Regions from separate parts of the Homo sapiens genome. Here regions 1, 2 and 4 are each linked to region 3. The links come from fine-mapping of genetic effects on gene expression. A gene starts in region 3. Each other region holds a variant in brackets. All regions are shown on one strand. Distances are between the middles of the regions. Region 1 overlaps LOC105373032 (a long non-coding RNA gene). Region 2 has its middle 18 kb from the start of DNAL4. Region 3 holds the start of CBX6 (chromobox 6). Region 4 holds the start of APOBEC3A (apolipoprotein B mRNA editing enzyme catalytic subunit 3A).

Evidence for each region. PIP is the estimated chance that this variant, and not a neighbour inherited with it, causes the effect.
Region 1: its variant is fine-mapped to the expression of CBX6 in whole blood (TOPMed, PIP 0.96).
Region 2: its variant is fine-mapped to the expression of CBX6 in T cells (GENCORD, PIP 0.95).
Region 4: its variant is fine-mapped to the expression of CBX6 in whole blood (TOPMed, PIP above 0.99).

The regions. Positions count from the first base shown.
Region 1 is chr22:38,920,588-38,928,689 of GRCh38, reverse strand. LOC105373032 (a long non-coding RNA gene) reads right to left here. Exons shown (of 3, transcript XR_938256.2): 2 at 7,140-7,514; 3 at 2,231-4,573. Among named protein-coding and RNA genes, the nearest start is that of APOBEC3A, 33 kb to the left of the region's middle. The variant C/T (reference allele first, on the strand shown) is at 3,372.
Region 2 is chr22:38,808,533-38,816,634 of GRCh38, reverse strand. No RefSeq gene overlaps it. Among named protein-coding and RNA genes, the nearest start is that of DNAL4, 18 kb to the right of the region's middle. The variant A/G (reference allele first, on the strand shown) is at 3,531.
Region 3 is chr22:38,867,276-38,875,376 of GRCh38, reverse strand. CBX6 (chromobox 6) reads left to right here and starts at 3,161. Exons shown (of 5, transcript NM_014292.5): 1 at 3,161-3,255; 2 at 3,432-3,475; 3 at 3,620-3,685; 4 at 3,831-3,897. The coding sequence starts at 3,187. RefSeq lists enhancers at 823-1,002, 819-2,018, 1,855-2,404, 2,405-2,955 and silencers at 2,950-3,209, 3,240-3,389, 3,490-3,539.
Region 4 is chr22:38,949,690-38,957,791 of GRCh38, reverse strand. APOBEC3A (apolipoprotein B mRNA editing enzyme catalytic subunit 3A) reads right to left here and starts at 183. Exons shown (of 5, transcript NM_145699.4): 1 at 72-183. The coding sequence starts at 100. RefSeq lists enhancers at 2,591-3,470, 7,337-8,102. The variant C/T (reference allele first, on the strand shown) is at 3,575.

The sequences.
Region 1 (8,102 bases), 53 kb before region 3:
AAAAAAAAAAAAAAAGGTGGCTTTTGGCTTATTAAAATATTGTACTTTTTTTTACTTTTTTTTTTGAGATGGAGTTTAGCTCTTGTTGCCCAGGCTGGAGTGCAGTGGCACGATCTCAGCTCACTGCAACCTCTCCCTCCTGGGTTCAAGCAATTCTCCTGCCTCAGCCTCCCAAGTAGCTGGAATTACAGGTGCCACGACCACACCTGGCTAATCGTTTGTATTTTCAGTAGCGACAGGGTTTCCTCATGTTGGCCAGGCTGGTCTCGAACTCCTGACCTCAGGTGATCCACCCATCTCGGCCTCCCAATGGGCTGGGATTACAGGCATGAGCCACTTCAGCCAGCCTTGTATACTTTTTTATTTTATTTTATTTTGAGACAGAATCTCACTCTGTCACACAGGCTGGAGTGCAGTGGTATGATCTCGGCTCACTGCAACCTCTGCCTCCCAGGTTCAAGCAATTCTTCTACCTCAGCCCCTTGAGTAGCTGGAATTACAGGCGCGGGCCACTACACCTGGCTAATTTTTGTGTTTTTAGTAGAGACAGGGTTTCACCATGTTGGTCAAACAGGTCTCGAACTCCTGACCTCGTGATCTGCCCGCCTCGGCCTCCCAAAGTGCTGGGATTACAGGTGTGAGCCACTGCGCCTGGCCTCTTATTCACTTTTTTAAAAGAGGATTTCAAAGCATCTGGAAAACATGCCTGCTGTTGGAAACCCTGCACGGCAAATTCAGTTTGCAAGCGTCATTCAGATGTTGGTTGACGACAATACACCCGCCTCTCGGGCTGAGCGGTTGCGCCGTGTTGGGTCCTTTTTCTGTCACTCGGTGACACTCCAAGTTCTGTGCAGTCCTTGGTACAAACAAGGCATGGTTTGGAGGGAAGGGACGATGGTGTTTGCATTGCTTGGGGAACAACCCAGCTAGCATTTTCCACATACTCTGCATATACTATCCAGTTTATGACACTGGAGAATCTTGCGTCTTCTGCTGGGAATCATTGGCTCTTCCTCCCCCATATTCACAGAATCTTGCCAGTCTTCGAACAGGTGGGGGTCAGTGACTGTGAGAACAGGCACCCCAGTCCCGGCTTTGAGTCTCCGTTCTGCTCCAATCTGCCCAGGCGTCTCCTTTCACTACCAGCTGCTAAGTAATCTCCTCTCCGACAGCTCGGCCAGGGCGACTCACAGCGCCCCCTGCCCTGCAGCCAGTGATCTATCCCGCTGCTCATTCCCCGGGGATCTGCCACCTCCAGCGCCGGTGCTGCCATCTGCTCTGGCCGCAGCCCGCCAGGGGACGCAGGGCCCAGGACGGGCAATGGGGGGGTGCCGCCCTCCCCAGCCCCCTCTGCGGCAACCCCCCCCCCCGCCCCCGGCAGCCTGAATCCCACCCACCCCGGGCCGCGACACTCCCACCACCGCCCGGGTGGCACCAGGCTCGCGCCACGAGCCGGGGTTGTGAGGACTCAGCGACTCTAGCAGCGCCGCGCACTGGGAATCTTTGAACAGTGCGTTGATCTTTGTGTTTTAATTACCACTGTCGCCCTTAGACCCAACACTCTAGTTTCTATTTATTTATTTATTTTTGAGACAGAGTCTCACTCTGTCGCCCACAGTGGAGTGCAGTGGTGTGATCACGGCTCACTGCAACGTCTGCCTCCTGGGTTCAAGCGATTCTCCTGACTCAGCCTCCTGAGTAGCTGGGATTACAGGCACCTGCCACCACGCCCGGCTCATTTTTGTATTTTTAGTAGAGACAGAGTTTCGCCATGTTGGCCAGACTGATCTTGAACTCCTGACCTCGGGTGATCCGCCCGTCTCAGCCTCCCAAAGTGCTGGGATTACAGGTGTGAGCCACCACGCCCGGCCTCGTTTTTAAAAATGAGTGTTTTTAAACACTCCTATTGGGAGGCTGGGCGCAGTGGCTCACACCTGTAATCCCAGCGCTTTGGAAGGCCGAGGCAGGTAGATCGCCTGAGGTCAGGAGTTCGAGACCAGCCTGGCCAACATGGCGAAACGCCGTCTCTACTAAAAATACAAAAATTAGCCAGGTGTGGTGGTACACATCTGTAATCCCAGCTACTTGGGAGGCTGAGGCAGGAGAATCACTTGAATCTGGGAGGCAGAGGTTGCAGTGAGCTGAGTTCACACCACTGCACTCCAGCCTGGGTGACCAGAGCGAAAACCTGTTTCAAAAAAAAAAAAAAAGAATTATTATATTGGGAGTATTTTGTTGTTTTTGTTGTTGTTAATTGAAAATCCATACCAATACTGAGAAAATCTCTCATTTTTTGTGTGTTACTGGCAAAGAGAAAATGGAAGAATGGCAACTAGAAGAACAAAACTTGGACACAGATGAGTGTCTATAAACGAGGGCCCTGGGCTTGGGGCTGAGGCTGGGTGCCAGTCAGTGTCAGCTCTCAGGAAGGGAACTGGGCAAAGGGATTTCTGTCCTTTTTGGATTTGTGTACCCACTTGTTTTGGACAGAAGAGGCTGGGTTATGCTACAGGAACAAACCTCCATGATCTCAGTGGCCTAAGTTCATGAAGCCTTTTTCTTGCTTAAGTTAAATATCCATGAAGTGGAGAGGGGCAGTCTATACCCAGTCCTCACTAAGGGACACAGGCTGACACAGACCCCTGTCTGGAACATTGACCACAGGGTCAAGGCAGTGATGACGCACGTTGTTCCCTGGCCGTTAAAGCTTGTACCTGGCAGGGATGTGTCACTTTCACTCCCATTTCATTGGCCAAAGCAAATCACGTGTTCACACCTAACCTCAATGATGCGGGAAAGCCTGACTCCACCATGGGCCCAAAAAGGGAGAAAGGGATGTTTCAGTGTAGCGACAGGATGATGACCAGCACATCATCCTGTCACTGCACTTGGTCAACTTCTTTGTGAAGGTCTGAACCAATAAGTAAGCCAAGGAAAAGGGAAGAGATGTGATCATTGGAAAGAAGCCACATTTGTCATCATTTCTAGGTTATTTTTCTATCCCCTGTCCACTTAAGAGGGCCATGCCTGGCAGAAGTTTGCATCAGTGCCCAGCCCACAGAGGCATGAGTAGGCCTGGGCACGGAGTACACAGTTACCCAGTATGCTCCTTACCTACCTGGCACCTCTTGGCTGACAGAAAAGCAAAAAGCTTCAATAGGTGAGAACCAGGGGAAAGAGACTTAAAACAAAGTATTAATAAATCATATTCACATAGGGCTTCTCGCTTGCAAGTTATAGTTTATGTCTGTTATTTTTTAATTTTCATGGTTATTGTAGTAGATATGTCACACTGTATCTCCAATTCACCAAAATGGATCAATGACTAAAAAGAGGTTCTATAAAATGCAAAGTAATGATGAAAATGGCAG[C/T]ATAAATCCTCAGAAGGGCACTGTAAACATAATGAGTAAATGGTTCTGCAATATAACTATGGAAATACAAAACTATATATTCAAGGACAAACAAGTTCTTGAGTGGTGATTTTACACATGCAACCATAAATGAAAATTGTGAGTCTAAGTTCAGTGAGGAATACTTGAACATTTCATTTATTGGACAAGCAATCCATTTGCCCCTAGTCCTCGATATATTACTGTTAAAATGAAAATGCTGATATATAGTAGTCTGGAGCCATAAAAAGTGTTTCTCATTATCTTTAGAAAAAGCAACCAATTCCATTTTTCCAGAATAAGCACAAAATAACTTTCTAATGTAAAATTGATTATTCTTCTTATTAAAGGTGCGGAGGAGACTAAAGCTACAGAAACATCATTCTAAATTGCTGTCCTCTTAGCAAATGCACCTAGATATCAGTCGTAAAATTGCCAAGAAGACCGTAAATCAGCTCACAGATCATAATGAAGACTGTGCTTGGAGAGAGATCCAAAGGATATTGACAAAGCTCCTCTATCAGATAACAGAGCACACAAAGCAGAAATGCAATTACTAGTGCACACACATGTTAGCCAATACTTTGCTTTTGAGCAAACCAAACTCCTCATGTGCAAGGCATAAAACAGCCCTTGGTGCATGTGGGGTTCAAATATGAGGGAAAAATGCTGCCTGGCTTGTCGCTTTGTTTTTCGTGCCAAAGTATGATAAGAGGCTTTTCATTTACAGATTATTTACTTTGTGAGTCATGTGCTAGAAATGGCACTTCAGGACCCGTGCCAGAGTTGAAGCCGCTGTGGCTGAGCAGCGAAGAGCTTTGCTCTGTGAATAAAAGAGGTTGTTCCTCATGCTGCTTTATTCACAGAGAAGAGTTAATGGTCAACAAAATGCTTCTGGACCCTGATTCAGGGTTAAAGGAAGTAATAAAAAGAATACAAACTTCGTCTAATTCTGGATGAGCTCAATATTGGCACAGCTTTTCAGCCTGCTGTGAGGAAACACAGGTAGTATGCAGGTCAGTACACTTCCAGTCGGGGATGACAGAAATTCAATTTCAAGTGGATTAAACAATAAATGGAACCAATTAAAGCATTTGTGATGTCAGGGCTCTGGCTCTGGCTCGCTGCAGGTGCCTTGGCTCTGTTCTCTTCCTTGCGTTGCCTTCTTTTCAGACCAGCGTCTCCTGTGGTAGAAAAATTGTTACAGCAGCGCCAAGCCCACAGTACGCCCCACCTATCTGGACCAACAGAGAGTCTCTGTCTCCCACAATTCCCAGGAAGGTCCTGAGGTTAGCATGGATTAGACTGGCTCAGGGCACGTGTCCACTCCTGAGCCAATCACGGTGTGGCTGGGGGTGGAACCCACTTACTGCTCCACCCCTGCCCTGATGGCAGCAAACAGCAAAGCAGCAGCAAAAAGGAGAGAAGGGAGTGAGGGAAGAAAGGAGGAGGGAGCAGAGGAAGGGAAGGAGAGAAAGGAGGGAGGGAAGAAAGGAGGAGGGAGCAGAGGAAGGGAAGGAGAGAAGGGAGGGAGGGAAGAAAGGAGGAGGGAGGAGAGGAAGGGAAGGAGAGAAGGGAGGGAGGGAAGAAAGGAGGAGGGAGGAGAGGAAGGAGGAAGGGAGGGAGAGAGAGGAAGAAAGAAATGAAGATCTCATGGATATGAGAACATAATTAATGTTTCAAACACTCTCTTTAAATTTAAAATCATTGATGAAACTCTACTTTTTTTTGAATTACAATTGATGATCTATGAATGTGCCAAATGCCCATTCAGTGGTCTGTGGTGTGAAACGTTGAGAAAGGATGCCTCGAGATGCTTCTAACACCTAAAAATACCCCTTGCAGGCCAGCTGTGGTGGCTCATGCCTGTAATCCCAGCACTTTGGGAGGCCGAGACAGGCGGATCACTTGAGGTCAGGAATTTGAGACCAGCCTGGCCGACATGGTGAAACCCCGTCTCTACTAAAATACAAAAATTAGCCTTGCATGGTGGTGTGCCCCTGTAGTCCCAGCTACTTGGGAGGCTGAGGCATGAGAATCACTTGAACCTGGGAGGCGGAGGTTGCAGTGAGCCGAGATCACGCCATTGCACTCCAGCCTGGGCAACAAGAGTGAAACTCTGACTCAAAGGGTCATGGACCCTTTGCAGATCCATGTTCTCCTAAGTAGCAAATACTTAGGCAATTATTACAAATGAATTCCCCTAATAAAACTCTCCTCCCACCTCCTCCTCACAGGACATGGAGTCAGTGCATGGCAGGGAGAGAGCTGGGAGCGTCAGGCCAGGCTTTCCACTGCGGTGTCTTTCTGGGTGTCAGCTGCACCACTGTCCTGAACTCTGTGCTGACCGGGCACTAGTCTGGTGTTTGAGACCACAGTGGGGACAGCACCAGCCCCACGTCGTTGGCGCTGTCTACAGGCTGTCCCCACCAAGGCAGCCCCTCTCTCTGCCCGGTCCTCTGTGGCTCTGCTTCTCCTTCAGCTCCTTCATCCTACCCCCTTGTCAGTCTGGTTTCTCTGTTTGTACAAGGATTTGACACCTGTCCCAAAAGGGCACCCTCAGCTCTGGGTCTCCTCACCTTCCAGGTCTGACAGCCAAGGCTAACCTATGATAACCACTGGTTCTCGATTCTAAATCTCCAGAAGAGAGAATCTGATTTGTGCAGCCTGCATCAGGCATCCACTCCTGGACCAACCAGGAAGCCTACGGGGCCCACCAGTGTGGGTAATATGAGAAACATGCTCACCTGTCCAAACCCAAAGGATGAACTTAGAGACATAGAGAATTGCAGAGGTGAGACTTGTGTTGTTGTTGTTGTTTTGTTTTTGTTTTGTTTTGTGACAGAGTTTCACTCTTGTCACTCAGGCTGGAGTGCAATGGTTCCATCTCGGCTCACCGCAACCTCCGCCTCCTGGGTTCAAGTGATTCTCCTGCCTTAGCCTCCCGAGTAGCTGGGATTACAGGCATGCACCACCATGCCCAGCTAATTTTGTAGGTTTTTTCTTTGTTTTTGTTTTTTTTTAGTAGAGATGGGGGTTTCTCCATGTTAGTCAGGCTGGTCTTGAACTCCCGACTTCAGGGGATCTGCCTGCCTTGGCCTCCCAAAGTCTGGGATTACAGGCATGAGCCACTGCGCCCAGCCAGAAGTGAGACTTTTAATGACAGTCTTGCAAGATCTGGTGTCTGGTAGGCAGGCACACCCAGTACAGTTACAACAAGCAATGTATCCCCTAGTAGGCAAGTCCCTCCCCCGGTTCCTCATAGGCTGAGTACCATGGGGTCACCATCTTCCCAGACATCACCTATTGGTCGTTGGGTTGGGGCTTTTAGGTGTTTACTTTAGGGTTGTCTCGCTGCAGTTTGTTGTGGCCCATAATGCACTGCAATCATAGTCAGCTAAGGTGCTCTTCAAGTATTTGACTTATGACCCAGGTGGCCAGGCAAGCTGATAAGAATAGATAAAGTGAGCTATTTTTCAGGCTAGTAAACTTTCATTCTAGACTAAACGCTTTGCTTTGGGTGGGGGTAACTAAGGGGGCCCTGACCAGCAGGGGTCTAGTATATCCTGTCCATCCGCAGGTTGTGGGCCCAAGCCTATTTGAGGCACTTTGCCTTGGAAATGGGCCACCGTAGACATTATTTCCTACAGTAGGAGAGAAGCTTGAAGCAAAGGGGACATTGACTCCGTAAGTACTTTAAAGCATGTCTACAAATCCTTTGAAAGACATCCTGACATCCTCCAAACGTACCTTGTGAAGACGGCTCATAAGGGCAACGCAGCCTAGATGGAGCAACAGGTGGACAGTCTCAAGCCGACCGTGCAGAATTAGGAAAAGCCCCAGCAGACCAGAAAAATCTCCATTCCCTGGTGACATGGGGAGAAAGCTGGCCTGACATGGCTCCAGAGCTGGCAGCACCTCTGGGTCCTGATAGAAGTCTGGGTGGCTGCCAAGCTGAGTCATCCAGGAGCTAAGGGAAACGACCTACCTGTAGCTAAGACCAAGCCTCACACCCCATCACCTGGGCTGGATCTTGTTCTCCTGCCAGATCTGTCGTATCTTTATTGGCTCTCCCAGTGACGGCTTCTGTGGTTGGAAATCATTCATTAGTTTTGCTGCCTGAAACTGAACCATAAATGAGGCACTGAGACAGGGGAAAAGCCTGGTCCATGTCGAGATCTGAGCTCAACCCTAGACCTAAGCTCCTGACTCCATACCCTGATTAGCAACAGCTGCCATCACAAAACCAATTTTTTTTTTTTGAATTTCGCTCTTTTTGCCCAGGCTGGAGTGCAATGGTGCAATCTCAGCTCACTGCAACCTCTGCCTCCTGGGTTCAAGCGATTCTCTTGCCTCAGCCTCCTGAGTAGCTGGGATTACAAGCACATGACACCATGCCCACCTAATTTTGTATTTTTAGTAGAGCCAGGGTTTCACCATGTTGGCCAGACTGGTCTCGAACTCTTGACCTCAGGTGATCCGCCCGCCTCGGCCTCCCAAGGTAGTGGGATTACAGGCATGAGCCACCATGCCCAGCAGACAAAACTAACTTTCTAAGCTTTTAACATGACCCTCAGACATTAACCAAGATGCTTGTCTAGACCACAAGCCCATTTTTCTTTTGTAGAATTTGCATTTCTCTCCTTGCATAAGAAGGAAGTATCCAGTGATGGTGAGAAAAACATGGGATCAGCAAGACCTGGGTTCGAGCCC
Region 2 (8,102 bases), 59 kb after region 3:
TTCTCCTGCATTACCAACCTATCCTTATCTACTTTGTCATTTCAATGGGCCTCCACGTCTGCCCCAGTATCTCCTCTCTTACACAGAATCCCCATCTTGGGCCAATACCTCCTGCAGCTGTCACTCATTCCTTTTCTCCTTTCACTGCAAAACCTCTTGAAAAATCAGGAGTATCAGGGGTCCCCAAGACCACCCACAGGTTTGATGATTCACTGGAAAGACTCACAGAACTCAGAAAAGCTGCTAAACTCATGGTTACGGTTTATTACATTGAAAAGATACAGATGCAAATTAGCCAAGGAGAAAGGCATATAGGGTGGAATCCAGGACAGACCAGGAGCAGGATTCCAGTTGTTCTTTCCCAAAGTCCTACGGAGAGCACTTCATTCTCTCAGCAATGATGTGTGACACACACACAAGAGACTTGTCCATCAGGGAAGCTCACCCCAGTCTTGGTGTCCAGGGTCTATACTGGGGGATGGTTATGTAATGGAGCACCCGTATGACTGACCTTAACTACTCAGTCTCAGGACCCTCTCCAGAGGTCAAACTGATACAGTGTGACCAAGGGCATTTGGCATAAAAGACTTTGTCAGCATAAATTATCTGGCATGGCCCAAGGTAAACAAAGATAGTCTCATCAGGCAGGACCTTCCAAGGGTTTAGAAGTTACCTGCTGGGGAGCTGCTCCAGGCCCAGTCCTTTCTTTGGAATGCACAGGGTTCCATCAGCCCAAGCCTGCTGAGTTAACCCTTTGCTAGACAGTGGGTCTACAGTTTTTTGGGGGTTTTGGGTGTTTTGTTTTTGTTTTTGAGATGGAGTCTCACTTTGTCACCCAGACTGGAGTGCAGTGGCACCATCTTGGCCCACTGCAACCTCTGCCTCCCGGGTTCAAGCGATTCTCCTGCCTCAGTCTCCCGAGGAGCTGGGATTACAGGCATGTGCCACCACACCCGGCTAATTTTTATATTTTTAGTAGAGACGGGGTTTCGCCATGTTGGCCAGGCTGGTCTCAAACTCCTGAGCTCAAAATAATCCTCCTGCCTTGGCCTCCCAAAGTACTGGGATTACAGGCGTGAGCCACCACAGTCAGCCAGGTCTACAGTTTTGATGCCACTTCATCCCACTTTCATTCACATCTTGTCCAGTTCCCATGAGGCTGCTGTTCCCCCCACACCCCCACTCCACCGAAGTCTTACCTGTCCAGGCCAACAATAACGTCCACGTTACAAAATCCAATGGCCAGGCCTCTGCCATTGTCTTAGCCACACTCTCAGCTGCATCTAACATACTCCTTCCTTCTTGAAAAATGTATCCTCTTGCCTTCCAAAACACACCCTCTCCTGGTTTGTCTTTCACCTCAGTGGTTCTCAAATTGTAGCCTGCATTACAATCGCCTGGAGCGAGTTAAAGCACTGGTCGCTGACCTCTGGGCTCCACCCTGGAGGTTCTGAGGCAGTAGATCTGGGGTGGGGCCCAATCGTCTGCTTCTCTAACAAGCGCCAGATGATGCTATGGCTGCTGGTCCTGGGACCACACTTTGAGAACTACTGCTCTATTTCACTGGCGGTTCCTACTAGGACTCCTTCTGGTGCCTCCTCATCTCCCTGGTCCCTAAATGCTGCACTACCCCAGGGCGCAGTTCTGGGTCTCTTTATTCTTTCTACCTAGATGCTCTCCCTAGGAAATCTCATCCAAGCCCATGGCTTTGACTCCCTCCTAGATTTTTCCCTGAACTCCACATTTGCATATCCAGGTTACCCAATAGGAGTCTCAAAATGTAGGTATCCAAAACTAAGCACTTGATCTTCCTCTCCCTACCCCACTCACCCCCTTCTCAATAAATAGGCTCAAATAAATAGGCTCAATTCCGGTTGCTCATTGACTTCTCTCTTTCTATTGCCCATCTATTCAATCCATCGCCCATTGACTCAACTACTAACCCATATCTCAACCCACGTTCACTCCTTTCCACTCTGCTACCACTCTGTTCCAAGCCACCATTGTCTCTTAAAAATGCAGTTTCCTCTCTTAAAATCCATTCTCTGGCCGGGTGCAATAGTAACTCACCCCTGTAATCCCAACACTTTGGGAGGTCGGGCAGGAGGATTGCTTGAGCCGAGGAATTCAAGACCAGCCTAGGCAACAGAATGAGATCCTGTCTCCACAAAATTTTTTTTTTTTTTTAATTAGCTGGGCGTGGTGGTGCACACCTGTAGTTCTAGCTACTCTGGAGGCTGAGGCGGGAGGATCACTTGAGTCTGGGAGATAGAGGCTACAGTGAGCCCTGATTGTTCCACTATACTCCAGCCTGAGTCACAGAGTGGGACTCTTAAAAAAAGAATTAGTTCTCCTTATGACACCTACAATGATCATGTTGCAATCAAAATATTGTCACTCCCCTCTGTAAAACTCCAAAGCAGCCCGGGCATGGTGGCTCACGCCTGTAATCCCAGCACTTTGGAAGGCCAAGGCAGGTGGATCACCTGAGGTCAGGAGTTTGAGACCAGCCTGGCCAACACAGTGAAACCCCGTCTCTATTAAAAATACAAAAATTAGCTGGGCATGGTGGCAGGTGCCTGTAAGCCCAGCTACTCAGTAGGCTGAAGCAGGAGAATTGCTTGAACCCAGGAGGCGGAGATTGCAGTCCAGCCTGGGCAACATAGCCAAGACTCTGTTGAAAAGAAAAGAGAAGAGAAGAGAAGAGAAGAGAAGAGAAGAGAAGAGAAGAGAAAAGAAAGAAAAAAAATAGAAAAGAAAAGAAAAGAAAAAAGAAAAGAGAAAAGGAAAAGACAAGACAAGACAAGACTCTCCAAAGCTTCCCAGTTCGCTTAAACTAAAATCCACGCCCTCGTGGTGACTCTCAAAGCCCTCTGGGATCCTGTCCCTGCCCACCTCCTGGATTTTATGTGGTCACTCTCTCCCCTCTGCTCATTCCACTCCAGGACACACTGGCCTTCTTGCTGCCCCTCAAACGTGCCAGATTCAGATAACCTGCATGTGTCATTCTCTCAACCTGGAATGTTCCTTCCCCAGGTCTCAGTGGACTTGCTCCTTTTGATCATCCAAGTCTCAGCTGTCATGCAGCAATCACAGATGTGTTTGCTGACCACCTGGCCATAAGTAGCTGCCTGGTCGCTCTCTGTCATTTGCCACATACCCTCTATTACCGCAGACCTGGGAACCAAGCCCTCCCTGCTCAACCTGGAACCAAACCTGCCAGGGTACCCTGCTCTATCATCCTTTTTCATTCTCACCACAGTATGAGTCTCTCTTTGACAATGGTATTTTACTAACTTCCTATGATAAGTCACCAGAGTGTCCTCCTGAATAAACTGTCAGCTCTACGAGGGAAGGGACTGTATTTGTCTTTTTCACCACCATATAGATCCAGTGCCCTGGCACAGAGTAGGTGTTTAACACTGATTTGCTGAATACTAATAACTGGTATATATTGAGTGCTTTTATATGACAGGAACTCAGTTCTCTGAGTACTTGACATATATTAGTTTATTTAATCCAAGGAGGCA[A/G]GTTCCATAAGAAAACTGAGGCCCAGAGAGGGAGACTTCCCCAAGATCACATGGCTGGGAAGTGACAACACTAGATTTTTATTTTTATTTATTTATTTATTTTGAGACAGAGTTTCACTCTTGTTGCCCATTGCCCAGGCTGGAGTGCAGTGATCTCGGCTCACTGCAGCCTCCAACCTCCACCTCCCAGGTTCAAGCAATTCTCCTGCCTCAGCCTCCCAAGTAGCCTGGATTACAGGTGCCCACCACCACGCCCAGCTAATTTTTGTATTTTTAGTAGAGATGGGGTTTCACCATGTTGGCCAGGCTGGTCTTGAACTCCTGACCTCAGGTGATCCACCCACCTCGGCCTCCCAAAGTGCTGGGATTACAAGTGTGAGCCGTCACGCCCAGCTGCAACACTAGAATTTAATCCAGTCTGACTCCTGAACAAGCACCCAAATGCTGCACAATATGGTCTGTAATTAAGGGGTTCCCCTTAGTCCCTCAAGGATGTCAAAATATTCGTGTGAGAAACAAAGGCTGGTGCAGATTTCTGTTGCAGACCAGCTTTCCCACTGAGAAAACCTAGAAAGACAGAACATATTTAAGACATCCAAGGAAAAGGCAGGTACAGTGGCTCACACCTGTAATCCCAGCACTTTGGGAGGCCAAGGCAGGCAGATCACTTGAGGCCAGGAGTTCAAGACCAGCCTAACCAACATGGTGAAACCCTGTCTCTACTAAAAATACAAAAATTAGCTGGGCATGATGGTGCGTGCCTGTAATCCCAGTTACTCGGGAGGCTGAGGCAGGAGAATCACTTGAACCCGGGAAATGGAGGCTGCAGTGAGCCGAGGTCATGCCATTGCACTCCAGCCTGGGCAACAGAGTGAGAATCCATCTCAAAAAAAATAAAAGAAGGCATCCAAGGAAGGCATTGGAGAGGTATCAAGACAAGTCAGAGTTGAGGGACAAAGATCCCAGGAAGAAGAGAAGTTCAGAGAGGTGAGCCTGGATTCTGGGGCAGCAGCCTTCCTCTTATGGCCCCTATCCACTAACAACAAATCGCTAAGTTGAGCAGCCAGTTAATATCTTCAAGAAATTACACGACAATGAGAACTAGAGCTTCCAGCTAAAAACTGAAGTTTAGGATGAGGAGCTCTGGTAAATGACCCAGGCTTTTAGTGGGTTACACACTCTGAGTAGGGAAAAAGTCCAGCCCTCCCACACACAGAATGGCAGTTTCCAAGCATCCCATTCATTGATTGAATTAAGGTGTCTGCCTCTTCACCAACAGCTTGCCAGAAGCCAAGTAAATTCTCTGGAGGAAGAGAACAACGCCATCCAAACTCTCACATTATATTTTTGTTACACAAAGTTTGGCATTCAATAAAAAAAAAATTACCCGACATATCTGGAAATGAAACAGAATGACTGAAAATCCAGACGGGGGAAAAAAATTTTTTTAAGGCCACTAGACCTACACATGTGATAAAATTGCCTACAATTAAATCTCACACACACACATACACACACATACATATATACCCACAAATATACACAAATACACACATATATACACACATGCACACACACGCACACACATACACATACACACACATTACACACATATATACACATGCTCATGCACATATGCACATACACATACCCACACATGCACAAACATACACACATACAAACACTCACACACAAACACACACACATGCACATACACACATACAAACACATACACACACATGCACACACATACACACAAACATACACAAACACACACACATTACACACACACACATATACAGACACACACGACCACAAGTAAAACTAGGGAAACCTAAATAAGACAGTATCAATGTTAATATCCTGGTTGTGATGTTGTACTATACTCTCATAGGATGTTACCATTAAGGGAAGCTGGGTAAAGGGTACATGGGCTCTCTCTGTGTTATTTCTTACAACTGAGTGAGTCTACAATTATTTTGAAATAAAATGTTTCATTTAAAACAGGCCATGATGGGCCTGTTATCCAGATAGTGGTGTTATGAGACATAGACTTGAAAATAATTATCATTAATATATTCAGGGCTTTTTTTTGAGACAGTGTCTCACTCTTCCCCCAAGGCTGGAGTGGCTCCATCTCGGCTCACTGCAACCTCCAGCTCCCAGGCTCAAGGGATCATCCCACTTCAGCCACCTGAGTAGCTGGGACTGCAGGTGTGCAACACTGCACCTGGCTAATTTTTGTATTTTTTGTAAAGATGGGGTTTCACCATGTTGCTTAGGCTGGTCTTGAACTTCTGGGCTCAAAGGATCCTCCTGCCTTGTCCTCCCAAAGTGCTGGGAATACAGGGAAGCCTATTCAGGACTTTAGATGACAAATGGAAGAATTTCAACAGAGGATTGTAAACTGTAAAAAAGAATCAAATGGAAATGATAGAACTGAAAAATACATTAAACGAACTTATGAACTCAATAAATAGATTTAACAGCAGATTAGATACAGCTGAAGTGAACTCTATTAGAAAGACCAAAAGAAATTACCCAGAATAAAGACTGAGAGAAAAGAATGAAAAGTGCAGAAAAGGGTATAAAGATTAATATGGGACATAGTGAAAAGATCTAACATGTAAGGAGACCCAGAAGAAGTAAACAGCACAATTAGGGCGGAAATAATGGTTTTTTTGTTTTGTTTTGTTTTGAGACAGAGTCTCACTCTGTCACCCAGGCTGGAGTGCAGTGGCATGATCTTGGCTCACTGCAACCTCTGCCCCCCAGGTTCAAGTGATTCTCCTGCCTCAGCCTCCCAAGTAGCTGAGATTACAGGCACCTGCCACCACACCTGGCTAATTTTTGTATTTTTAGTAGAGATGGGGTTTCACCATATTGGTCAGGCTGGTCTTGAACTCCTGCCACCACACCTGGCCGGAAATAATGTTTTAATAGAGACCATCTAAGAATTTTCCCAAATCTGTTGAAAGACATTAAGCCACAGATTCAAGAATCTCAGGGAACCCCAAGCATGAAAAGAAAACTACAACTAGGCCCCTAATAGTGAAACAGTTGTAAATAGTGAAACATTTGTAAATCAAACACAAAGAGAAAAATCTTAAAAGCATCCAAAGGAAAAAGATGCATTACCTTTCAAGGAGCAGTAGCAAGACTGAAAGCTAACTTTTCAACAGAAGGAATGGAGAAAGGAAGACAATAAACCAATATCTGCAAAGTGCAGAAAGGAAATTACTGCCACCCTGGAACTCTAGAGACAGTGAAAACATCCTTCAGAAATGGAGATGAAATAACGATATTTTCAGACAAAGAAAGAACTAAGAGGACTTATCACTGGTGTTTTTTGTCGTCAACAGAACTTCACAAAAGGAAGTGCTTTAGGGAGCAGGAAAATGATCCCTGAAGGAAGCGTGGTGATTCCAGTGAAGAACAACAGAAAGGGTACATATGTGGATAAATCTTACTTAATGTTGATTGAAAATAAAAGCAAGTACGTCTTGTGAGTTTTACGATTCATGACAATAAAAACAAAAATTGGGAAGAGGTGAATGCAATTAAAATATTCTAATGTCCTTACATTGTCCTGGAAGTAGCAAAAGTATTAATTTTATATTAAACTCTAATACGTCCAGGATCAATGTTATATTTTCCTACAGTAATCATTAAAGGATTGCAAAAGAGTATGTAACTAACAAGCTACCAAGAATATAAAAATAATTCAAAAAAGGCCCAAAAAGGGGAGAAAAAAGGGACTCCCAAAGGAAAGGACAAATAGAAAATAAATAGTAAGTGGGCTGATTTAAACAATTTTAATGTAAATTAGTAATTGCACTAAATATAAAAAGATACGTATTCCAAATAGTGTCAATCTGGGTTTAAAAAAAACTACATAGAAAGATTGAAATTAAAAGGATAGAAAATATATAGCATGCAAACATTACTTCAAAGGAAGTTGGTATAGCTATATTAAAGTAGACTTAAGGGCAAGAAGCATTGCTAAAAATAAAAAGGACATTTCATGATGGTAAAGAATCAATCTCTTAGGACGGTATGATGGTTTTAAATTTGTATGCACATATGAACATAGCTTCATAACATATAAAGTAAAAATTGGCAGAACCAAGTCTGGGCGCGGTGGCTCACACCTGTAATCCCAGAACTTTGGGAGGCAAGGCAGATGAATCATCTGAGGTCAGGAGTTCGAGACCAGGCTGACTAACATGGCAAAACCCCGTCTCAACTAAAAACACAAAAATTAGCTGAGCATTGTGGCAGGTGCCTGTAATCCCAGCTATTTGGGAGGCTGAGGCATGGGAGTCGTTTCACCCTGGGAGGCAGAGGTTGCAATGAGCCAAGATCATGCCACTACACTCCAGCCTGGGCTGGACAGAGCGAAACTCAGTCTCAAAAAAAAACCAAACCAAAACAAAACAAAAAATTGGCAGAACCAAAAGGAAAATTTAACAAGTGCAAAACAAGAGTTGACTAAATGGAATATTTTAACACACTTCTCTCAGTAACTTATAGGACAAGCAGATAAAATTTTTTTTTTTAATTTATTTTTTT
Region 3 (8,101 bases):
CTGCCCGAATTCCCACTTCATCTCATCACATCCCTCCTCTACTCAAAACTCCCTCACGCTTCCCACTGCCTGAGACAAAGTCCAAACCTACCCAGCATTCAAGGCCCTTCCCAAGTTCAGTCCAACCCATCTTTCCATTGCCATCCTTTGCCGTACTGCCCCAACCCATGCCATAGCAGACTTCTTTCCCATCCCCAAAACACACTCTCAGGCTCTGATGTGCTTGTTCAAGTTGACACCTCCACCCGGGACACCCTTCCCATTCTTCACTTGTAGGCCAATTCCCATTTGTCTTTCCGGCCCCAAATCAGAGGTCTCCACCTCTGAGAAGCCCTCACAGCCTCACCTCCACGTGGTAGGTTGCTCCCCTATGTCCACTCCCAAGACATCCTGTACAGACTCTTGTGGCAGGCTTATAATGCCTCCCCGAAAGATGTCCGTGTCCTAGCCCCTAGCCCCCAGAACCTGTGGATAGGATACCTTACTTACCATCCATGTTACCCTATGGTAAGAGGGTCTTTGCAAATCTGATTAAGTTGAGGTTGAGACGGAAAGATCATTCTCAATTATTTGGGCAGACCCAATGTAATCACAAGTGTTGTTAAAAGAAAGAGGCAGAAGCCAGGTGCGGTGGCTCACGCCTGTAATCCCAGTACTTTGGGAGGCTGAGGCGGGTGGATTACTTGAGGTCAGGAGTTCGAGACCAGCCTGGCTAACATGGTGAAACCCCCATCTCTACTAAATACAAAAATTAGCCGGGTGTGGTGACGCATGCCTGTAATCCCAGCTACTTGGGAGGCTGAGACTGGGAGAATTGTTTGAAACCGGGAGGCAGAGGTTGCAGTGAGCCGAGATTGTGCCACTGCACTCCCACCTGGGTGACTGAGCAAGACTCCATCTCAAAAACAAAAACAAAAGAAAGAAAGAAGCAGGAAGTGAGCAAAGGGATCGTGGAAACAGAGATTTGAGTGATGAAGCCATGAGCCAAGAAATGCCAGCAACATTTGGAAGCTGGATGAGGCACGGAACAGATACTCTCCTTGACCCTCCAAAAAGGGACCAGCCCTGAGGATACCTTCACTTGGGCCCAGTAACACTGATTTGGGACTTCCCGCCTCCAGAGTCATCAGATAACAAATGTGAGTCATTTTAAGCCACTGAGCTTGTGTTAATTTGTGAGAGCAGCAACACGAAACTCCTACACCTTTATTCTAGCATTAGTCACACTGTGTGACAGGTGCCGTTCTCACTCCACTGACAGCTCCTCAGCCTGGGGCACCTTTGTTTCCTGATGGTTTCACACAAAGCCTGGTGCTTCACAAGGGCTCACAAACACTGCTGAATGAATCAACAAGTGGACTCACCTGCTTCATCCCCCGCCTGTCTCCGTCAGCCTGAACACACACACACTGTCATACCCACTCCTCTCACCTGCTCACCCACCACCACCCACATCTCCCAGGAGGACATTTCTATTTTTACCACAGCAGCTCACCTTGGGCTGGCCAGCAAATAGCTGTTTCCCTGGAACATACTGATTTTAAGTGAGGAGAGGGATTTCTCTCAAGGTAATAATTGGACAAATCTGCTGGGAGAAAAAGACTAACATTTTGCTATGGTGGATTTGAAACCCAAGAATTGGCATTGTAGCACAGAAACGCAAAAATCTTTCCTAATGAGCCATTGATGTTCGCAAGACACAACCCTGACTCTTCACAATCCCCATTCCTCCCCACCCCATCTCAGCCCCAAGGTGGTCACTGGAAGGATGGTGAAATCTGTATTTAATGACACTGAAAGATGTCCACTTTATAGCATTAAGGGAGAAAAGCAGATTCCAGAACAGTGTGAATAGCGTGATCCCATTTTGTTAAAAAATTAAATCTACAGACAATGTGTATGTGTATGTATATACATACATACATAGGTGTACGTGAGTTTATGTACGCATAGAGCAGAGGCTGGAAGATTGGTGAAGATGTTAACAATGGTTTTATGGGGGTTATGGACAGTTGTTTTATCTGTATTTTTAAAATTGTTTTACAAAGAACAAGACTACTAACATAATGGGAAATAAAGTTCAAGTAATTTCAACATTTAAAAAGTGGAGCGTTTTGCGCGGCAGGGCTATTTTTTGTGTGTCCGTTCCTGGACAGCCCCAGCTCGATCCCCCGCCCCTCCTCAAGTGGGAAGCTGGGATCTGGGCTCCCCAGAGCAATGGCGGAAGCTTCGCGCAGCTGCGGGCGGGGAGAGGGACGCGGCCAGGTCGGGGGGCCGGGAGGGGTGCTGGGAATCGGAAAACACAGATATGACCGCGAAGGCGGTTTCTGCCGAATGACCAGATGATGACCCGCTGTGGGCCCAAGGCGGAGTGCGGGGAGCCCGTTCCTGCCCGCGGTCCCTCTCCCTCCCCCACTGCCACACCGGCCCCGCCGAATCCTCCCCGGTCTCCTGGGCGAGGACAGGTGCCGCCCGAGACCCCGGCCGCAGACAGATGCCCACGGTCACTCCGGCCTTCCTCGGCCCCATTCGCCGCACACCCCCTTCCTGCGGTGGCGTTTTTGTTTTAACTCTTCTGAACTGGTTACAAAACCACCCTCCCACGAATACATAAATAATGGGTGGGGGGCGATGTTTTAAAGAAATTCCCGCAAGGCCTGGCAAGGCAACAGCAACTGCATTTCTGCTGCATCATATTTAACTGTTTGCAGGCTGCTGCGGGAGATGCGCGGTGGCGGCGAGACTCGGGCTCCACAGCCCTTCTCCGCCCGGGGCCTGGCGAGACTCGCGTGGGGATTAAGAGGCAAGGAGAGGGTGTCAGCGATCGGGCGCCGGCAAGATGTGAGGGGGGGTGATAAGCGTAAGGCCGCAGCGTGCCCACAAGCCGGGCACCCATCGGGTCGGCCGGCAATTGCTCCCTCCGCCCGCGCGGCCCCTTTAAGAGCCAGCGCGCGCCCCCGCCCCGCGAGCGCCGACTTTCCCTAGCAACCGCCCCGGGGGAGGGGGAGGTCCTGGCAACCGCGCGCCAGCCGCGAGGATCACGTGACGGCCCGCAGCTGGAACGCGAGCGCGCGCCCCGCCGCGCTCCCGCCCGCCGGGGCCTGGGCGCTGCGGCGCGTGCGCGAGCGGTGCCGCACCGGCCGCGGGCGCAGGGAGTATTATGGGCTGTGGGTGCCGCTGAGCAAGATGGAGCTGTCTGCAGTGGGCGAGCGGGTCTTCGCGGCCGAATCCATCATCAAACGGCGGATCCGAAAGGTGAGCCGCCGCCCGGGGCGGGCCGCCGCTGTCCGCAGCCGGGGCCGGGGCCGGGGGCCCTCGGGGCGAAGCGGTCCCGCTAGCCCGGCTCCCTCGCCCAGCCCCGCGCCGCCGCCTCCTCGCGTCCCCGCATCCTCCCCACCCCCACCCCCGTTTTTCTCCCCTCTGTTTTTCAGGGACGCATCGAGTACCTGGTGAAATGGAAGGGGTGGGCGATCAAGTGAGTGTCGCGGGGTCCGGGGGCGTCGCGGGAGGGGAGGCAGCGGGCACCGGGGCCTGGGGTGGGGGTGCGCGCTCTTGCTCTCGCCGCGTGCCTGTCCCTCTCTGGTCTTCATCCTGATTTTGTGCGTTTGTGACTCGGCAGGTACAGCACTTGGGAGCCCGAGGAGAACATCCTGGACTCGCGGCTCATTGCAGCCTTCGAACAAAAGTGAGTTGTTGGGGAAGCTGGCAGGGGCTGCGAGGCCGAGGCTCGGCTGGGGCGCCGCGCGGGGAAGCGGGAGAGCCGGGGAGGGCAGCGCGGAGTGGGGCCCGGGAAGGGGCTCTTTTTAACCTCTGGTGTTTTTCGGCCGCAGGGAGAGGGAGCGTGAGCTGTATGGGCCCAAGAAGAGGGGACCCAAACCCAAAACTTTCCTCCTGAAGGTAACCTGGCCCAGCCCCAGCAGCATCCCCCTCTCGGGCCCCCAGCCCCGGCACAGCACGGGGCCTGGAAGGGAGGGACAGATACGCGGCCGCCCAAGCGGGCCGGCCTTTTCAGAGGGGCCCCAGCTGGGCAGGGGGTGGTTGTGAGCCCCCCCAGAAGCCCCTGATGGCAGGCCTCAGCCAGCATCAGCTTCAACAAGAGGGTTTTGGGACTGGGGATAATCCTCCCTGTTGAAACCAGGGGCTGGGGATGCCTTTAGGGCTCCAGGAAAGGGGGTGGCTGAGGCAGGTGGGGGATGCCCATGGGAAGGGGGCATTTGTTTGAGCTGTTATGACTGTGCTGGGAGTTGGAACCCAGGGGGAGAGTGAGTGGGGTCCCACCTCCTGGCAGGGCACAAGGAGAGGATTTGGGGGACCACCTGCCTCCCTGCCCCCAGCTTCCCCCGTTCAGTCTTTCAGGATTTGTTCTTCATGGCTCCCCTCCTTTCTTGGGGATCCAACTTGAATTTGACCTCAAATCATTTTACTTTGAATTTATCACCCAGGCTGGGCCACTAACTTTAGGGCTCTGAGCCTCAGTTTCCCCCCACTCCCGGCCATTTCTGGGGGATGGGGATGTGGGAGTGAGAGCATAGCATATTAGTCTCTGCTAGGGAGGGAAGAACTTCCAGAGGAAGCCATCTTGGAGGATTTGGGTTTTTATTTTATTTTGACAAGGAAAAACAGAGTCTGGGAAAGGAAGGGCAAGATGGCCCTAGGTGGCAGGCACGGCTGCAGGTGGGACTCAGTGGGCCCCCTGTCTTCCTGTAGTGCTACGGATGCCTCAGGGCCCCCTCCCACCCGACAGCCGGTGACTTTGTGGGAGGACTCTTTTTCGGAGAAGAGAAGCAGAAGTGAAAGAAATGTTGGTTTCCAGAATTTCATATTTTTATAACCCCCACCCTCAAGCGACGCACATCCTAGGGGATCCAGGGAGTAACCTTAACCCTGATGCTTCTCTTGGGGAGGGATGGGCGGAGCAGCTGGAAGGCTGGTGGGCTGTGTGACAGCCTCTCAGTGCAGCTGGGGCACCCTCTAGCGGCGAAGCGAGTATGACCATGAGCATTGATACACAGAACGCCTTTTTTTCTTGATAGTTCTTTTGGTTCCTGAGCTGGCTGTGGGCCTAATACAGGGCTGAGCCCCCACATGGATTATCTCCTTTAATTCTTTCAACAGTTCCAAGAAGTAAGGAGTATTATCCCCATTTCACAGATAAAAAATCAAGGCCCAGGAAGGGAAAGTGACTTACCCGAGGTCCAGCTTCCTGGCTTCATCCTGTCTCCTTTTCTTCATCTTGTGCCTTGAGTAGTCCATGTCAGGTTAAAGGGGGAAGGCAGACACACACAGGAAACTATGAAGGCTGCAGAGTTGGCGTGGCAGGGGATAGAGACACAGATAGTAGGACTTTTTTATCTGGACCCTAAGAAACAGGTAGCCTGAGAGTGATGTGGATGTTTGTGAGGGGCTATGGAGATTAGCTTGGGCTGAACACATTGTTCTGGGGCTCCCTGAGAGGCAGTATGGCAGAGTCAGCAAATTACACTCAGCGCTTTCTGCCAGGAACTACTCTGAAGCAAACAGGAGCCCATGAGATAGCTTCCATCCTCCCTGTTTCACGCATGGGGAAACAGGGCCAGAGGTGTCCAGTAACTTGCCCACAGACATGGGGAGAGGCCATGGTAGAGTTCAGGTGCTTAAACCTTCACACCATCTACGGTGCTTGCCAAGCCCACAGAGCTATGCCTGTCACCTGGTCAGGGTGCAATAAGCATGTTGGCTACAGTTATTTTTAATTCATCAGGCAGACCCAGGTCCCACTTTCAAAGAGTTCTCCATGTGGGGAGGAAGAGGAAGGGTAAACCCTTTAAAAAATAATAATATATAGAAAGTATAAAGTAAGAAATGTCAATGTATGCCAAGCATACATTGGAAAAAGATCACTGCTTATAAGTCCACCACCCATGGGTAGGTCTGTTCAGTTATTTGCTGCGTGCCAGGCACTGTGCTGAGCAGGTGCCATGTACTCTCTGATCATCATAGGAGTGCCCGTAGTAGGCCCTGTGATGGTTCAGCAGATAAGGAAAGGAGACTCACTGAGCCAGGGTTTCTTTCCGGGCCTGCCATTTGCCCACACTCTGCCCCTCCCCCAGGAACAGTCCGTCACCACTGGACTCTTGGAAGCATAATTTCAGAAGTCAGGAAGCTCAGGCAGTTTGCAGAGGGAGTAAACACTTTCTGAGAGTCAGAAAGTGTGGGGATGCACCTGCAGAATGTCTGCTTACCACGCCAAAAAAGCCTGGGCTTTTCCCTGCCTTTGTGTGGGAAGGGGTCTGAGGGGCCCAATCCCTGGGAGCTGGGCTGGCAGCATTGGCATGGGCAGGCCCGGCTTCATGTGCTGCCACCTAGTGGCGGAAGGGACTGTTAACCAAGCAGCCCCAGGAGGCCCCAGCCTGGGCTGGGAGGACCACGTGGAGTCACAGTCCCTTCTCCCATGGGGGTGAACGCCACGTTCTAAATGAAGACATCCTTGCTTAGCCAACAAATAAGCCAGCAAACATCTCTCCTGAGAGTTGTGATCAAATGGTAATCTAGTCTTGTCTGAGAGGCATATGGGCTACCTCCAGGTACTAGTTAAGCATCCAATGCTGTGGGGAGTGGGAGGTAGAGAGACCTCACAACAGATCCCACCCTCATGGACCTCACAGACCAACCGTGGGGACATGGCCTTCTTCTCGGTCCCAACCATCTCCCACCTAGATTGAGGGCAGCCATCACCTAACAAGCCTCCCTGCCCCAGTAGGATCTCTAAAACCCACGCCCCTTGTGGCACCCCACACACACCCCAGCCTCTGTCCCCAGCCCTTGCTTTCAGTCCTGTGACTCCTCGCCATCTTCTCACACCACTGGGATCTTGCCCAGAGGACTCTCTGCCTCTACCATCTGTCTGTCTTAGCAGGCCACCGCAGCCTCTGGAACTGTCTGGGGTGCAGTCAGGGCTCAGTAAGGACCAGGACTTTTTCCTACTTAGGTGTCAGGGCCGGGCTTTGATGTTTCATTCTCCAAGCCTGGGGTCTGTGCTTCTCTGGGCTCTGTGGTTCTTTCGCTGCACGAAATCACTTCATATTCCCACTGCCCACCGTCCTCCCTGTGATAGGGCAGCTCTCCAGGGGAGAGTCTGTGCGTGTGCAGCTGTAACCCCAAGCAACTGGTGCCTGGTGCCTCAGTACCTTCCTTAGTAAAGAAAGGACTGGCCATGCAGACAGCTTACATCGCCTTAGGAGTCCCTTAGCCTCTCTCCATTTAGTGGCATCTGACAACGGGTGGGTTGGACCGGAACCTGGGGTCTCTTGAGAGCCCTGTGGCTTTAAAGAGATTTCATGCCTGGAAGGACAGCTGGAAGGACAGGCCTGGGAGCCTGGGGCAGTATTCCTGGCTGCCCACGACCTCTGCACCATCATCCTGCCCCAGACCATCTTGGCACAGAGAATAGGCAGTGGTCGGGCCCACTTCTAGGCCTGTCCCCACCAAACTCACGTCTGACCGGGTTGGGTTCCAGCCCAGGCTTTGGGATGCATTGGTACCAGTTCACTCTGAGCCAGGCACTGGGCAGACAAGTAAATGAGACCCATCCAGGGAAGTATGGTGGCTGAGGTGCTGGCCAGCTGAGGAGACAGGCTGGAGCCGGAGGTCAGCCTGCTCAAAGGCGAGAGAGTACGGGGCATTGGGGACATGGTGGCTCAGCAGGACTTGGTGCGGGGGAGCAGGGAGGACCCACCTCCTCCTTTCTGTCACCACGAATGAGTCCGTGGAGGAGTCCCCACTTGGGCTGGATCTGCCACAGAGCAGGGGTTTAGCAGGGGCTTCTGAGCAAACGGCTGCCCTCCCGACACTGTGTCCCAATTGTCGACACTCCTCCGTGTCAGCAAGGGCAGCCATGGAGTGGCCCAGGGCCCTCTGTGGAGCTAACAGAGGTGGTGGGTGATAGAAAAAACACAGTTTTGGAATTGGGCCTGGACAAGGGTGTCCTGACTCTGACCTTGGAGTCAGAGGCAAATTGCTTCATCTCTGAACCTCTGTTTCCTTTTCTAAGTCGAGGTCATGAAGACCAGTGATTATCTTAAATGATCTCGGGATCGCTGGCTGAGAGGCTCTACTTAGGGCT
Region 4 (8,102 bases), 82 kb before region 3:
AGGTGAGTGCTCATCAGAAAAGCTCAAAGAGGAGGCTGAGGCGCAGAGGTGCTCGGAGGGGCTTCCCATACCTGGGCCCGGATGCTGGGCTGGCTTCCATGTGCTTGTCCCTTCTCGGTTCCTGGTCTGTGTCCTCCCGCTCTTGCGACTTGCTCAAGGCGTGGTGTTAAGATCTTCACCAACATTCTCTTAGGATTCAGGAGCCTTAATATATCATCAGAGCAACCTGGAAGCTGCTGAGTCAGCGATACCCTGCCCCACCCCTTCTCCAGCTCAGGCCGAGTGTGCCACCCTCATTAGCGTCAGAACAAGGAAGTTCTCTGCCATGCCTCTGGGCAAGCTTTGGTTTTGATGTGCCCACTCTGACCACTGAACCACCAGACACTGTGGAGTGACAATGGGGATGTAGAGCTGGCCACACTTTGCTCCCTGTGGGCCACAGGAATCTGGAAGGCAGGAGACCAGGGGGCAGGTGAGAAGACAGGTGTCCACACCCTGGAGAAAGACCCTGAATAACACTCAGCGGTCCAGAGAGCAGGCTCCAGGACAGCCACCCCTGTGTCCTCCCCTGTGGCCAGTGCAGGATGTGCCTGGTCCAGGCTCCCTGGCACCTGCTGCATCCTGTGCTCTCTGTTAGGGTCCTGCATCTTCTTCCCTGGCTGTGAAGATGGGAGACCAGCAGGTCCTGCATCCTCCTATGCATCAGTGTATCTAATAATTGTAAACTAGAGGGAGGAGTGTTTTCATCCCCATTACCCAGAGGAGATGCTAAAGGCTCTGAAAGGTACCTAGAGATCCAGGCCCTCCCAGGAAACAGAGTCCCCAGCAGGGACACACCCCCACCCCCCTGTCAGAAGGGCCACCCTGTGCCCTTTCTCCCACCTCTGGGCCCTGCAGAAATGTGAGGGACACTGTGCTCCTGCCCCAAGTGAGCCCCTGAGTCCTGGCGGCAGGTCTGGCGCCGTCCTTTCCCAGGTCCACCTGCTACACCCAGCACAGCTGCCCCTGGAAGGTGCTGGCCCTGTGGGCCCAGGGGCTGTCCCCTGTCCTGCCTGCTCCCCTGTTCTGGCTCTTACTAGACCCCCCTGTCTTTGGCCAGCAATCCTCCCACCTCAGCACAGTGTCCCTGCCATTTTGGTGGGCGCCACAGACTAGAAGAGGCCCTGTTCTCTGCCGTGAGGACCCCTCCCATTCTGTCTCCAGATGTTGGACTCTTCTAGTCAAGAAGATGTCCCCTGGGGGCAGTCAACTGCCATTTGAGTCTCAGGTGGTTCTGGTGTGAGCTCATCTTGGTGTGTTGTGTGAGTCTGACCAGAGGCCACCCTTCCCAGTTCACACCAGAGGCATGCACAGCTGGACGCCCCGCAGTACCCACAGCCCACCTGGGCCAGAGACCACACTTGTACCAACTTTGGGAGGATCCAACCCTTCCCCAACCCTTCCCGGTGGCTCCTGCTGCCCAGAGTGTGATGGCCTTTCCCCTGGCTCAATAATGCATCAAATGCCCCTGGAGCAAATACACCCCTGGACCCATGGTCAGGACAGCCCCCACATGAGCTTTCTATGGGGAGACCCAGGAGAGCTGCAACAGGGGACAGCGCTTTGTTCAGCATCCCTGGGGCGTCTCCTGCATCTCCTGGCTCTGGGTCCTCAGCCTTGGGTTCCAGGGTCTCCCCAGCTCACCCACCCTGGGCACGTCCTCCTCCCTGCTGCCCCAGCTGGCCCAAGCCCCACTGGATTCATGACTGGCCCATGCCTGCCTCCCCTCTCTGATCCAGACAGGTCCAGATCTTCCAGAATGTCTCCAAATCTGTAAGATCCACTTTATGGCCCATCACAGAAACAGGCACATTGTCTGTTTCTCTTTCTAGTTTTACAAACCAGTCAGGTTAGACTATCAGCACATCTGCACATCTGTGAACCTTCTCATCTGATGACAAAGAAGGCCTCAGACTAAAATGTTTAAAGCAAAGTGGGGCCCAGCTACTGTCCAGAGTTCAATTCTCAGTAACTCACTGTACAAGCCATGCACCCAGGCAGAGCTCCAGAGAGGAGAGAAGACAGGGTGTTGGGGGGTCCCCACTAGCAGAGAGGGAGGCCAGGACCCTCCCTTGCCAAGGGTGGACAGGGGGAGCCACTGGTTGGGCGTCTGCAGCCCAGACATGAGCGGGGAACAGTCTCACTCTAGCCCCTGGACCCAGGAACTTCCATAAGGGCCACAACCTGGAACCTCTGAGTGAGCTCCCCAGGGACTTATGTGCCCTACCCCCTGCCAGTGCCCCCACCGACCACACCCACATCCTTCTGTGCACTAGGGCCTGACTCTCTCCCGGCAGGAATGTCCCAGACACAACTGGCCCCTTCCTGGTCCCCCTGCAGCCAGGGCAAGGCAGGGTCTTCAAGGCATCAGGGGAACCCAGGGGTGGTTAAGAGTGTGCACCTTCCCTAGGCCAACTGTAAGGAAGACGGAAGGAGATTCCACCCTTTCCTGGGGAAGGACAGCCCCTCCCCCATTTCTGTCCCTGGAATGTTGGCTGAACAATCAATGCGATAACTGTGAAAATGTGATAAAATACCAGGTCTTGCTGGAGTTTCCATAGGATCCTGGGGAAGGTCCAAGGCGAGAGAAAGAAACTGGATCCCCAAGGGGGAGGCAGGAGAATGGCCTCCTTAACAGGTGCAAGCTTCCCTGGGCTTTGCCCAGGTCCCCTGTAAGGAAAACTGGGGACAGGGCAAGTGCCCCACAGGGGTCCAGACTGGGTGAGAGGGACAGACCAGTGCAGAGGGACCCTGAAGTGGTCCCTGATTGCTGGGCCACTCAGCCCAGGTCACCCTGGGACCAGAACGGAGGTCCCGCTCGGGTCTGGAGTCCATGCTGCTGTGTATGAGGTCCTGGCTCTGCCATCACTGTGGGGCCCCAACCCCTACAGCCCAGAGGAACCACAGGCTTCCAGTTCCTAGCCCAGGTCTGAGCATTGTCATGGGGCTGCGTCCAGTCCCCTCCCCTGGACCCACAGGGCTCCCAGGTCATAGGCAAAGCTCTGAGATGAGACCCAGGGAAGCTGGGAGTCTGAGGAGCTCGGGAGAGAAAGGGCTCCCTGCTCCTGTGCCCCGCCCCCAACAGAGTGACATGACGAAAAGGACCCTTCCTTGGGATACCCCAGACACACCCAGATGCCCACTTCAACATTGCCCGTGGAGCAGGGTGAGGGGACAGTCTCAGCGTCCACCTGCTCCTCTGGCTTTGATTCTGGGCTCTGACAACAGCCCCGCCCTCCTCAGCCTAGAAGCAAGTGATCGAAAAAACCAAAGGATCTCTCCAAGCAAAGGGGCCAAGCTCGGGGGGGCGGGGGGGACAAAGGGTGGGGGGAATAGGGAGGTGGAGGAGGTGGCTGCACCTGCCCTTGGACAGGGGACAGTGCTGTCCTCCCAGGGTGGGGCCCTCTGTCCCCCATACCCCCACTGGGGTGGCCTCTTTGCCCAGAGTGACTACATGTTGTCCATTTTTCGGTCACTTGTTTCAAGGGGTGGAGCTGGGGCTGTTGTCAGAACCCAGAAATGAAAACGAGAGGAT[C/T]GGGGTTGATGACGTGGTTTCCCCAGCACTCTTCACGGTAAGAATTGCTGCAATCCTCTGACTTGGGGCAGAGCTGAGGTAGACATCTGGGTGTGTCTGGGAAACCCCGGGGAAGGTTCCTTTCTGTCCTGTCACTGTCTGTGTGTGCTTATGTGTCTGTGTGTGTCTGTGTCTTTGCCACCAGAAGGAGTTGGGCCTGTTTGCTCATGAGCAGCTGTCGAGGAGGCCCACTGTGTACCACATATGCGGCTCCTGAGGTCCTGAGGTGGAAGGTCCCTACTGCATCCACCACCCCGCGGGGCAGAGAAGGAGCCCAGAGAAGGAGGGGCGTCCCACCTCGTGGAAGGCCAGGAATCAGGAAGACCAGTGTCCCTTGTGCTAGGGCAGCACAGTGGGGTCCCTCTCTCTTTCTCCCTCACCCCCATGCTCCTGGTCAACCTCCTCCCACTCCAGCCCTGGCTGCCAGGGCCAGCCCCCCACCTTCTCTATGGGGTGGGACGCTGGTGAGCCACGTATTCACGGGAGGACCCTCAGCACAGAATGAGCCCTGGACAGTCCATGCATGTGACTGACATTGCTCACTTCACCAGCCCATCTGCTCCCTCCCTTCCTGATGCAGGCAGCAGGAGAGGGGCAGAGACACAGACATCCCAGGAGGGAAAACCTTCTGGAAGAGCCTACTTGACATGCCTGGTATCCTTGGCTCCCAGACAAGTCTGGACCACCGATCCCACATGGTAAAAAGGACCCTTCCACAAGATACTCCCAGACACAGCCAGATGCCCCATAGAGAAGGTGGTGGGCAGGTCCTGGTGGTCCCGGCCCCACCCAGTCCTCCGAGGGAAGCATCCACAGCTGTTTCTGCTCCTTGGCCTCCGACACCCCAGTGCCATCCCCGGAGGGCCTGGGCTGCCCCTGCACGGTGAGCTCCGGGCCAGTGACAGCCGGGGGCCCTGCTCTCGGCACCACCCTCTTCCAGGGGTGGAGACCCAGGCCTTGGGTCTGTGAGCTCCTAGGTCTGTTTCTGGATGCAGCTCAGCTCCCTCTGCTATGCACAGAGTAAGTGCCCAGCATGTGTGCCATGGCTCAAGTTTGGGATGTAGGAGTCTGGGCTGGGAGGAAGGGCCTGGCTTCCGCCTCTGGCTTGGGATGGAGAGGGCACCAAGCTCATGGTGTCACTCGTGTCACTTGGCCGTTCACTGGTGCTCGGCAGAGGTTCTCTCGCAGGCTCCTGTGTTTACTGTATGGTGTCTTCCGCTGTGCAGAAATTTCAAATATGGCCCAGTAAAATATATCAGGCTGTCTTCCCTTGGGCTCACATCTAAGACCATGGCTGCTCCACCCTTCCTATGTGTAGAAATTCTTACCTGTCTCTCCACGGTATGTCGCTTGTCCAGGGAAGATTCCATGCCTGCCTCGTGGAAACACCCGGAGCAGAAAAGGCAGCATCCCCGTGGCAGGGAGGCCTGAAGGCCATAGTGTCTGGCATTGTGTGCCTTGTTTATGCCAGCTTTCTCAACCACAAGATTACAAAAGTGTTTTCCTGTATTTCTTCCTATCCTCTTGCATATGTAGATAAATACGCATGTGTGAGACACACATGCACACACACACACACATGCACATACCACCACACATTTGTTGAGCCAAGTGGGTGATGCTCCGTCGAGTGCACCAAGCTGGCTTCTTCCTCGGGGCTTTTGTGCCTGTGCATGGGTCCCTTTTCATGGGCTGTTTGAGCCCAGCTTCTCCCATGACAGCCCCTGTGTCTGCCTCCCACCCGGGCACAGAGCAGGAACAGCAGCCCTGCTCTCTTCACTAGGCAAGCGTGCTGTGCACAGGTAGGTGTTCAATATTGGATGAATAATTCATACTAACAAACCCTGTTCAACCCACCAAGTGTAAACTGCTGAGGTCTCCCAATATTCCTGGGGACACACTTTAGAATTCACAGTTCACCCAGGGCGGGTGAAAGCTTGCTTTTCTTTTTCCTCTTCAGCCACGGAACTTGCCGATGCCCACTTTTCCAATGCCAGCGTGAAAGCCCCAGTGAGTGCCCTAGAGGGGCAGGACACCAGCTGAAGCTCTTTTTGTAAAGTCTGTGCAAACTGCAGCAATCCACAACCATGAGCTTCACCTAATTCTCCTCCTTACTAATGAGGAAGTACACGGGTGGCCCAGAAATAAAGAATTTACACAGGCACTCTCTAATGAGATTTTATAAATTGCTACTCTTAGGCAATGTGACCTAGTGGGCAATAATGTCAGCACCTTGCATTGTGCAATTTGCCAGAGCCCAGCCCATGTCCAGTCCAAAGGGGGTGAAATTTCTCCTTGTGGCTTTAGAGCTTCCTTCTGAGCACCCGTCCACCCTCCTACACACACCCTTCTGAATGTTATAGCTTTATAACTGTATTGAGACTTTGTACAGCTCACTCTTCCAATTGTTATAGCTTTAAAATAGTATGGACTTTTCTTTTCTTTTTTTGAGACAAGAGTCTTGTTCTGTCACCCAGGCTGGAGTACAGTCATGTGATCTCAGCTCACTGCAACCTCTGCCTCTCGGGTTCAAACGATTCTCCTGCCTCAGCCTCCTGAGTAGCTGGGAACTACAGGCGTGCACCACCACACCCAGCTAATTTTTGTATTTTTAGTAGAGACAGGGTTTCACCATGTTGACCAGGCTGGTCTTGAACTCCTGACCTCAGGTGATCTGCCTGCCTCAGCCTCCCAAAGTGCTGGGATTACAGGCATGAGCCACCATGCCCAGCCATGTATTGACATTTTCTACCTTAACTCTCTTTATCTCTCGTAGTTTTCAAAATCAAATGAGTGGATCCAAGTCCTCTGAATGCAATGACCAGCTTGTCAGGTTCCAGTAAAGCCCTATCAACATTTTAAATGTGATTGCACTCGTTTATAGATTAGTTGGGTAGATGATTGATACTGGCAACCTCAAGCCTGCATTTATAATTAAATTGAGACTTCCATCAAGGGCTGGGCACACTGTGGGAGCTTAAGGAAGGACAGTGTGCTTCCTGCCCTGGCACCTCATGGCAGCCAGGCTTGAAGGGTCCCCAGAGAAGCCTTCACCACCCCCACGTGACGCCCTGCCCTTTGCTTGTGTCTCTGGGTTTGATAACAGCCCTGACTCCACTCATTGGAAGTAAGTGATAAAAATTGTGCAGTCATTCTGGGCAAAGGGGCCAGTGTAAGGGAGGCAAGAGGGGCTCACCCTGGTGAAAGAACCCCACAGTTAGTCATGTCACAGGGCGGGTCTCAGGGAGACCGGACCACCGTCCCCCAGAACCCCACCTTCCAAGGGCCCAGGCCCCCTGTCCCCTGGGGCTCACTCACAGCTTAGCCACGACCTCTTTCTTCCTCCCTGGGATGAGGCCCAGTGCCTGGAGATGGCCAGCCATCCCTCTGGGGGCCACCAGGTGACCAGCAGGAGAGCTGCGTCTGCAGGAGCAGATGTGGGGGCAGAGCCTGGATCCTGAGCGTGGTCGCAGGCCTGGATCTTGTTGTATGTAATGACCGAACCCTACTCAGCCCCTCAGGCAGCTCTGCTGGTCCCCACAGCCACAGACCTCCCTCCAGCTCCCTCTGTTCCCACGCCCCTGTCCTCCTGGCTCCTTCGTGTCCACTGCCTCCTGTCCTCCCGCAGTTGCCTGCAGCCCTGCCCTGCCCCTCTCCTCCCTCCTCTCTTCTCCTTTCCTTCCATCTCTCCATGGATCTGAGTCTACTAGCTCTTCCCTTCGGGCCTAAACGGCTGCCAGACTTCTTCCTGCCCTCCTGCGCCATCCCCTCTCACTGCTGCTTCTAATCCCCTCCACTAAATAATTATTTTCCCCCAGGCCCATATAGTCACTGTCAACGTTGTGGCACAGTTTGGCCCCAGATATGTGAGCAGAAGTTTGCCAAGGGGAGACCTGGGGAAGGCTGCCCTTTCTGGACAATCCTGTCGTCCAGGGTGACCAGGGCCGGGAGGCTGGACCCAGGGGCTTCAGGCTCTGCAGATGGAAAGGCAAGAGAGCACCAGTGCCCACCATGGCTGAGGTTGGGAAGTGGGGGCTGCTGTCCAGGGGCAGAGTCCATCCTCCATGTGGAACCCTTCCCACCTGGGCTCCCTCTCTAGTGGGTGGAATCCGGAAGGGGTGGGAACAGGGCTGCTCCCAAGGCCCCCTGACTACACGTGTGGCTCCTTTCCAACAGGGAGACTCCCCGCTGGCTCTCCTCTTATTGCCTGGCCTGTCCGTTCCGGCCAGGGCTGGCCAGCAGTGGGGAGCTCTGTGAGTGAGGTCAGAGTTTGAATTCAGGTGCTTGTCCCGGAAGGGTTAGCTGTGTTTTCTCATCCCAGAAGGAGTTAGTGTGACTTTTGCCCCACATGAAGGTCCACTCCAAAAGGAATGACATTTATTCATTTCCTAGTGTTTATTTACACACTTGCAATTCATGGTACAATTACCTAACAAATTATGGAAGATTCTTAACATTTTATTTTAGAAGTGTAGCTTCAAAGCCAATT